2 linked regions of the Homo sapiens genome follow. The protein of the gene in region 1 interacts with the protein of each later gene in a biochemical or structural test. Each region holds a gene or a part of one and is shown on either strand. Other genes may lie near its edges.

Region 1 (3,806 bases):
CCTTGGTCCCTTGCGGGGCACGTGTCAGACCCAGCTAAGCTGGGACATAGGGAGGGCGTCAGCCTCAGACCCACATGCCCTGGGTGGGAACTGCCCCCACCTCCAGGCTCCTGGGCAAGTCATGCCTTGGTTTCCTCAGCGGCATGCGGGTGAGGATATTCTTGCCTCCCTGTGACCCTCGAGATCATTAAAATGAGGGCCGTCTGGGCTGGCAGGCCCTGCGAGTCAGGCAGCGACCACCACGAGCTGGGGCAGAGCAGAGGCCTCCCCTGACTTCCCTCCAGAGCCCCCTACCCTGGGGCTTCGTTAGGGGCTGGCCGGGGCCAGGCACCCCCAGGGCCTCGGGGCCTGGCTTAGGGTCCCTTGCTCCCCAGGTCCCCCTGGGCCCGGAGTGCTCGAGAGCTGTCATGAAGCTGGTCTACTGTGCTCACTGCCTGGGAGTCCCCGGCGCCAGGCCCTGCCCTGACTATTGCCGAAATGTGCTCAAGGGCTGCCTTGCCAACCAGGCCGACCTGGACGCCGAGTGGAGGAACCTCCTGGGTGAGCCCCCACCCGCGAGAGCGGCCTGGAACTGTCTTGGGGAGTGCACGACTGGGGGTCCTGGGGGGCGGGTGGTCCCTAGCTTAGAGCTTGGACCCAGGGACCTGATCAGGGATGCCCTGACCCGGGCCAGATCTGGGTGGTGCTGCAGGGTTGAGGGGCCAGGGTGCCTTTTGAATGTCCTGAGTGATGTGTGACTTGGGGCAGCTGCCAGGGAGGGAGCCCTGTGGGGTCATAGTTTCTTGTCCTTCCCCACTTAGCAAGCACCTCGGTGTGCATACATGCCAACACGTGTGACTCATCGAGGACCGGCACTTGTTTAAGCTAACACATACATGCACCGTCACATGACAGGCTGACACATGCGAACTGGCGTGCTCACTTGCTGACACACAGTGGGCCAGTGCCCACCAGTACAGCGTGTGCTCCTGGGCGCATGTGATGACATGAGCTGGGCTGACCCGCATCAATGCCAACACGTGTGTGGTAATATGTACATGCTTATCCAGATCCACTAACATGTACACATGCTTACATGAGGGGGGACAGCATGCATCTGTGCCAACACGTGCTAGCATGTGCTGACACGGGGCCAACAGGTGTGTGCTAACGTGATGGGAGCTGACAAAATGCATGAGCTTTACTTGTACATGTGCTCACCGTGCACGCAACACACACATGAACTAAGGTGTACATGGGGGGGGCATGAGGTAAGCCAGCATGCATACACACCAGCTCACACGGGCTCATGTGCACACAAGCTGGACCAAGGTGAGCCAGCGTATGTACATGTCAACACCTGCATGAGCCAGCGTGGACATACGAGACACGGCAGGCCAGCAAGCATGCAGAATGGCCTCTGTGTATGTGCGTGTTCACCTGTGCCCGTGGCACAGGTGCACACGTGGGTGTGGGCCAAGCTGAGTGCACGTGGCCTGCACATGTCACACGGGCCAACCTGAGTGCACACGTGGGATCTCCCATGCTGACCCGTGCTGTCAAGACTGCATTAACATGCACACGTGGTGACGCCTGCGTGTGCGTGTCAACGCCTGTGTGCGCGCGTTAACGCCTGTGTGTCCGCGTGTTAACGCCTGTCCTAGACTCCATGGTGCTCATCACCGACAAGTTCTGGGGTACATCGGGTGTGGAGAGTGTCATCGGCAGCGTGCACACGTGGCTGGCGGAGGCCATCAACGCCCTCCAGGACAACAGGGACACGCTCACGGCCAAGGTGCGGGCAGGAGGACGTGACGAGCACAGCGGGGTGGGGGTCCTGGATGTGGCCCCATTGGGCTTGAGGGGCCCCACTACCCCCCAAGGACCCTGCAGTGTCTCTCCAGGTCATCCAGGGCTGCGGGAACCCCAAGGTCAACCCCCAGGGCCCCGGGCCTGAGGAGAAGCGGCGCCGGGGCAAGCTGGCCCCGCGGGAGAGGCCACCTTCAGGCACGCTGGAGAAGCTGGTGAGTGGCCCCTGCGTGTCCACTGGACCAGGCATGAGGGAGGCAGACAGGCAGAGGCGGGCGGGCCCTGGCAGCCCAGTGGCCTGACTGCTGCCCCACAGGTCTCCGAAGCCAAGGCCCAGCTCCGCGACGTCCAGGACTTCTGGATCAGCCTCCCAGGGACACTGTGCAGTGAGAAGATGGCCCTGAGCACTGCCAGTGATGACCGCTGCTGGAACGGGATGGCCAGAGGCCGGTAGGTGCCCACCTGGCTGGCACAGCCCTCCCTCCCATGCCGCCTCCATTGGGCTGTGCCTGGGCCAGGTGCTGTCTGCACGGGGCCACGTCCCTTGCTGGAGGGCTTGAGCCCCACTTCTCTGCGGCCTGTGTGGGCTCTGCTCGGTCCCTGGAAGCTGCTGGGCATCTCAGGCTCAGAGCGTGGGAGAGTGTCCTGCTCAGGTGATGGCCCTTTGCAGGGGCTGGAGCAGTGACCTGGGCTCTGCCTGCCTTTCCCCCAGGTACCTCCCCGAGGTCATGGGTGACGGCCTGGCCAACCAGATCAACAACCCCGAGGTGGAGGTGGACATCACCAAGCCGGACATGACCATCCGGCAGCAGATCATGCAGCTGAAGATCATGACCAACCGGCTGCGCAGCGCCTACAACGGCAACGACGTGGACTTCCAGGACGCCAGTGAGGGCAGGGCCTGGCCGGGCGGCCAAGGGGCCAGGGTTGGTGGGGGTGCCACAGGGGTGTGACTGCCCTCCGGGTTCCCCCACCCGAGGGGCCCTCTGCTCCGGCATCACCACAGTGAGTCTGAGGACGCTGTGCTGCCCAGGCACGATCACCGAGCCCTGCACCTCTGCGGCGCCCTGGAGGCCTGGCCGGGATGTCTGTTGGCTTTGGCTCCAGGGACCAAGGGAGGCAGCCCCAGGGAGTGAGAGTCTCCCAGCCTCAGGGGTCAGCGGGGATCAGGTGCTGCTGGTCCTGGGATTCCACACCGAAAGGATGTTGGGGTCACCTGGCACGGGCCCTTACAGGGTGGTGCTGCACTGGGGTCTCCTGTGGGGACCTGCCTGCCGGAGCCTCCTCTCCTTCCCAGGTGACGACGGCAGCGGCTCGGGCAGCGGTGATGGCTGTCTGGATGACCTCTGCAGCCGGAAGGTCAGCAGGAAGAGCTCCAGCTCCCGGACGCCCTTGACCCATGCCCTCCCAGGCCTGTCAGAGCAGGAAGGACAGAAGACCTCGGCTGCCAGCTGCCCCCAGCCCCCGACCTTCCTCCTGCCCCTCCTCCTCTTCCTGGCCCTTACAGTAGCCAGGCCCCGGTGGCGGTAACTGCCCCAAGGCCCCAGGGACAGAGGCCAAGGACTGACTTTGCCAAAAATACAACACAGACGATATTTAATTCACCTCAGCCTGGAGAGGCCTGGGGTGGGACAGGGAGGGCCGGCGGCTCTGAGCAGGGGCAGGCGCAGAGGTCCCAGCCCCAGGCCTGGCCTCGCCTGCCTTTCTGCCTTTTAATTTTGTATGAGGTCCTCAGGTCAGCTGGGAGCCAGTGTGCCCAAAAGCCATGTATTTCAGGGACCTCAGGGGCACCTCCGGCTGCCTAGCCCTCCCCCCAGCTCCCTGCACCGCCGCAGAAGCAGCCCCTCGAGGCCTACAGAGGAGGCCTCAAAGCAACCCGCTGGAGCCCACAGCGAGCCTGTGCCTTCCTCCCCGCCTCCTCCCACTGGGACTCCCAGCAGAGCCCACCAGCCAGCCCTGGCCCACCCCCCAGCCTCCAGAGAAGCCCCGCACGGGCTGTCTGGGTGTCCGCCATCCAG
Region 2 (3,694 bases), on another chromosome or scaffold:
CTGGTGTTGCTCTTGGTTCCGTGCCAGCTCCCAAGGTAGCCGCTTCCCCCACACCGGGATTCCCAGAGGTTCTGTCGCAGTTGCAAATGAAGGCACAAGGCCTGATACACAGCCCTCCCTCCCACTCCTGCTCCCCATCCAGGCAGGTCTCTGACCTTCTCCCCAAAGTCTGGCCTACCTTTTATCACCCCCGGACCTTCAGGGTCAGACTTGGACAGGGCTGCTGGGCAAAGAGCCTTCCCTCAGGCTTTGCCCCCTGCCGGGGACTGGGAGCCACTGTGAGTGTGGAGACCTTTGGGTCCTGTGCCCTCCACCCAGTCTCGGCTTCCCACCAAAGCCTTGTCAGGGGCTGGGTTTGCCATCCCATGGTGGGCAGCGTGAGGAGAAGAAAGAGCCATCGAGTGCTTGCTGCCCAGACACGCCTGTGTGCGCCCGCGCATGCCTCCCCAGAGACCACCTGCCTCCTGACACTTCCTCCGGGAAGCGGCCCTGTGTGGCTTTGCTTTGGTCGTTCCCCCATCCCTGCCCACCTTACCACTTCTTTTACTCCCCCCACCGCCCCCGCTCTCTCTCTGTCTCTGTTTTTTTATTTTCCAGAAAATCAGTTCGAGGAAAGGGAAAGGGGCAAAAACGAAAGCGCAAGAAATCCCGGTATAAGTCCTGGAGCGTGTACGTTGGTGCCCGCTGCTGTCTAATGCCCTGGAGCCTCCCTGGCCCCCAGTACAACCTCCGCCTGCCATTCCCTGTAACCCTGCCTCCCTCCCCTGGTCCTTCCCTGGCTCTCATCCTCCTGGCCCGTGTCTCTCTCTCACTCTCTCACTCCACTAATTGGCACCAACGGGTAGATTTGGTGGTGGCATTGCTGGTCCAGGGTTGGGGTGAATGGGGGTGCCGACTTGGCCTGGAGGATTAAGGGAGGGGACCCTGGCTTGGCTGGGCACCGATTTTCTCTCACCCACTGGGCACTGGTGGCGGGCCCATGTTGGCACAGGTGCCTGCTCACCCAACTGGTTTCCATTGCTCTAGGCTTCTGCACTCGTCTGGAAGCTGAGGGTGGTGGGGAGGGCAGACATGGCCCAAGAAGGGCTGTGAATGACTGGAGGCAGCTTGCTGAATGACTCCTTGGCTGAAGGAGGAGCTTGGGTGGGATCAGACACCATGTGGCGGCCTCCCTTCATCTGGTGGAAGTGCCCTGGCTCCTCACGGAGGTGGGGCCTCTGGAGGGGAGCCCCCTATTCCGGCCCAACCCATGGCACCCACAGAGGCCTCCTTGCAGGGCAGCCTCTTCCTCTGGGTCGGAGGCTGTGGTGGGCCCTGCCCTGGGCCCTCTGGCCACCAGCGGCCTGGCCTGGGGACACCGCCTCCGGGCTTAGCCTCCCATCACACCCTACTTTAGCCCACCTTGGTGGAAGGGCCTGGACATGAGCCTTGCACGGGGAGAAGGTGGCCCCTGATTGCCATCCCCAGCAGGTGAAGAGTCAAGGCGTGCTCCGATGGGGGCAACAGCAGTTGGGTCCCTGTGGCCTGAGACTCACCCTTGTCTCCCAGAGACACAGCATTGCCCCTTATGGCAGCCTCTCCCTGCACTCTCTGCCCGTCTGTGCCCGCCTCTTCCTGCGGCAGGTGTCCTAGCCAGTGCTGCCTCTTTCCGCCGCTCTCTCTGTCTTTTGCTGTAGCGCTCGGATCCTTCCAGGGCCTGGGGGCTGACCGGCTGGGTGGGGGTGCAGCTGCGGACATGTTAGGGGGTGTTGCATGGTGATTTTTTTTCTCTCTCTCTGCTGATGCTCTAGCTTAGATGTCTTTCCTTTTGCCTTTTTGCAGTCCCTGTGGGCCTTGCTCAGAGCGGAGAAAGCATTTGTTTGTACAAGATCCGCAGACGTGTAAATGTTCCTGCAAAAACACAGACTCGCGTTGCAAGGCGAGGCAGCTTGAGTTAAACGAACGTACTTGCAGGTTGGTTCCCAGAGGGCAAGCAAGTCAGAGAGGGGCATCACACAGAGATGGGGAGAGAGAGAGAGAAAGAGAGTGAGCGAGCGAGCGAGCGGGAGAGCGCCTGAGAGGGGCCAGCTGCTTGCTCAGTTTCTAGCTGCCTGCCTGGTGACTGCTGCCTTCTCTGCTTTTAAGGCCCCTGTGGTGGGCTGCAGGCACTGGTCCAGCCTGGCGGGGCCTGTTCCGAGGTTGCCCTGGTTGCCTGAGTGGTAGGCTGGTGTGGCTTAGTGTAGTGGTGTGGACGCAAGCTGTGTGTTGTGTCCTGTGGTCCTTCTGCTCATAGTGGCTGTTGGTCCTGATGTTATTACTACCTCTGGTAGTAATGCTGAGAAGCTGAAAGCCGATTCCAGGTGTGGACAATGTCAACAAAGCACAGATGCTCTCGCTGGGGCCTTGCCTCGGCCCTTTGAAGTCTGCATGGCTGGGCTTCTCACTCACTCAGTGTTTCTTGCTGGGGGAAGGAATTGAGTCTCCCACTTCAGACTGGGCCTCCCTGAGGAAAGGGTTGTGTCTCCCCACTCAGACTGAGGTTCCCTGAGGGTAGGGCTGTGTCTCTCCCCTCCGACCTGGGCTCCCTGATAGGGCTGTCTCCCCGCTCAGACTGAGGCTCCCTCAGGCCAGGGCTATGTCTCCCTCCTCAGACTGGGGCTCTGAGGGCAAGGGGTCTGGCTGTTCGTTTAGGATGGGGCACTTTTGCCTACACACTGAAGGAGCTGTAGCATCCAAGAATACTAGATACCTTTAATCCTCCACCAGTCATGGTGACAACCCCAAGCAGCCCACACATTTTCAAGTGCCCCCAGGATGCGTGGAGGGAGGGGTCTGTGCCCATTCTCCTGACATTAGCCTGTGAGCTCCGTAAGCCCGGGCCTCGTTTACGTACCTTTGTGAGCCCCGGGCATCTGTACCTCTTTCCTTTGCCCATACTGGGGACCAAGGAAGTGTCAAGTGCATGAGTGAATGTGTGACTCAGTTCAGAGGGTGAGGTCAGGAGCACAGGGTCGGGACAGGTGGCTGGCATCTTTTAATGCCTTAGCTTATGTTCTTTATACCAACTTGGCCTGTGCTCAGAGTGAGGGAGGCCCTGGGGGTCAGGGTAAGCGTCAGTCAGGGAGGCAAGACTTTGTGGGGATTTCCTAGACAGGGCCAAGGCACCCCCAGCTCACCCCGAGGCTGTGTTAGGGAAGTCCTTGGAGTGTCTCCCCTCCCCCAGCAATGTTCTTGTGGCTTGTGTGTGCTCAGGGGATGCTGGGAACCAGGCCTGGGTAGTTGGTGTGGGGTGCTGTCTGTCTTGGCCCTATGTGAAACCAAGAGGGCGTATATTAGTGCTGGGGTGGGGGCTCTGCCTAACTTCAGGGCTGGATGAGGGGAGTCTCAGTTCCCCAGGGGTCCTTGGGAAAGATAAGGGACTTGACATTTTAGGGTTTTTAGGTGATTATTCTGCTGATGGGGGTTTGTGTGAAGTGACCTGGGAGCTAACTGAAGTTACTCTAACCTCCCAATACCTTTACCCAACCCCCAAGCTGGCTGTATCTGGGAATATCAGTTTCCAAAATTGGAGGCTTAGGACTCCGTTTCGGGGCTCCCCAGAAGGGTAGGGCCTGTTCTGCCTCCTTCTCACAATCACCCAGGGGCAGGGGCATGCTGAGAAAGTTCTTGGAGGCCCCCTTTGCTTCAGCTGGAGTAGTGAAGCCGCCGAATTGTC

Evidence for each region.
Region 2: the proteins of GPC1 (region 1) and VEGFA form a complex in vitro, tested with the Homo sapiens proteins (one study listed by BioGRID).

What each region holds. Positions count from the first base shown.
Region 1 is NC_000002.12:240,462,973-240,466,778, forward strand, and holds part of GPC1 (glypican-1 precursor), read left to right. Parts: intron 1-374; coding exon 375-540; intron 541-1,643; coding exon 1,644-1,774; intron 1,775-1,883; coding exon 1,884-2,003; intron 2,004-2,104; coding exon 2,105-2,238; intron 2,239-2,500; coding exon 2,501-2,676; intron 2,677-3,085; coding exon 3,086-3,318; 3' UTR 3,319-3,806. UniProt on the Homo sapiens protein: Cell surface proteoglycan that bears heparan sulfate. Binds, via the heparan sulfate side chains, alpha-4 (V) collagen and participates in Schwann cell myelination.
Region 2 is NC_000006.12:43,780,135-43,783,828, forward strand, and holds part of VEGFA (vascular endothelial growth factor A, long form), read left to right. Parts: intron 1-597; coding exon 598-669; coding exon of another isoform or gene 670-720; intron 721-1,821; coding exon 1,822-1,953; intron 1,954-3,694.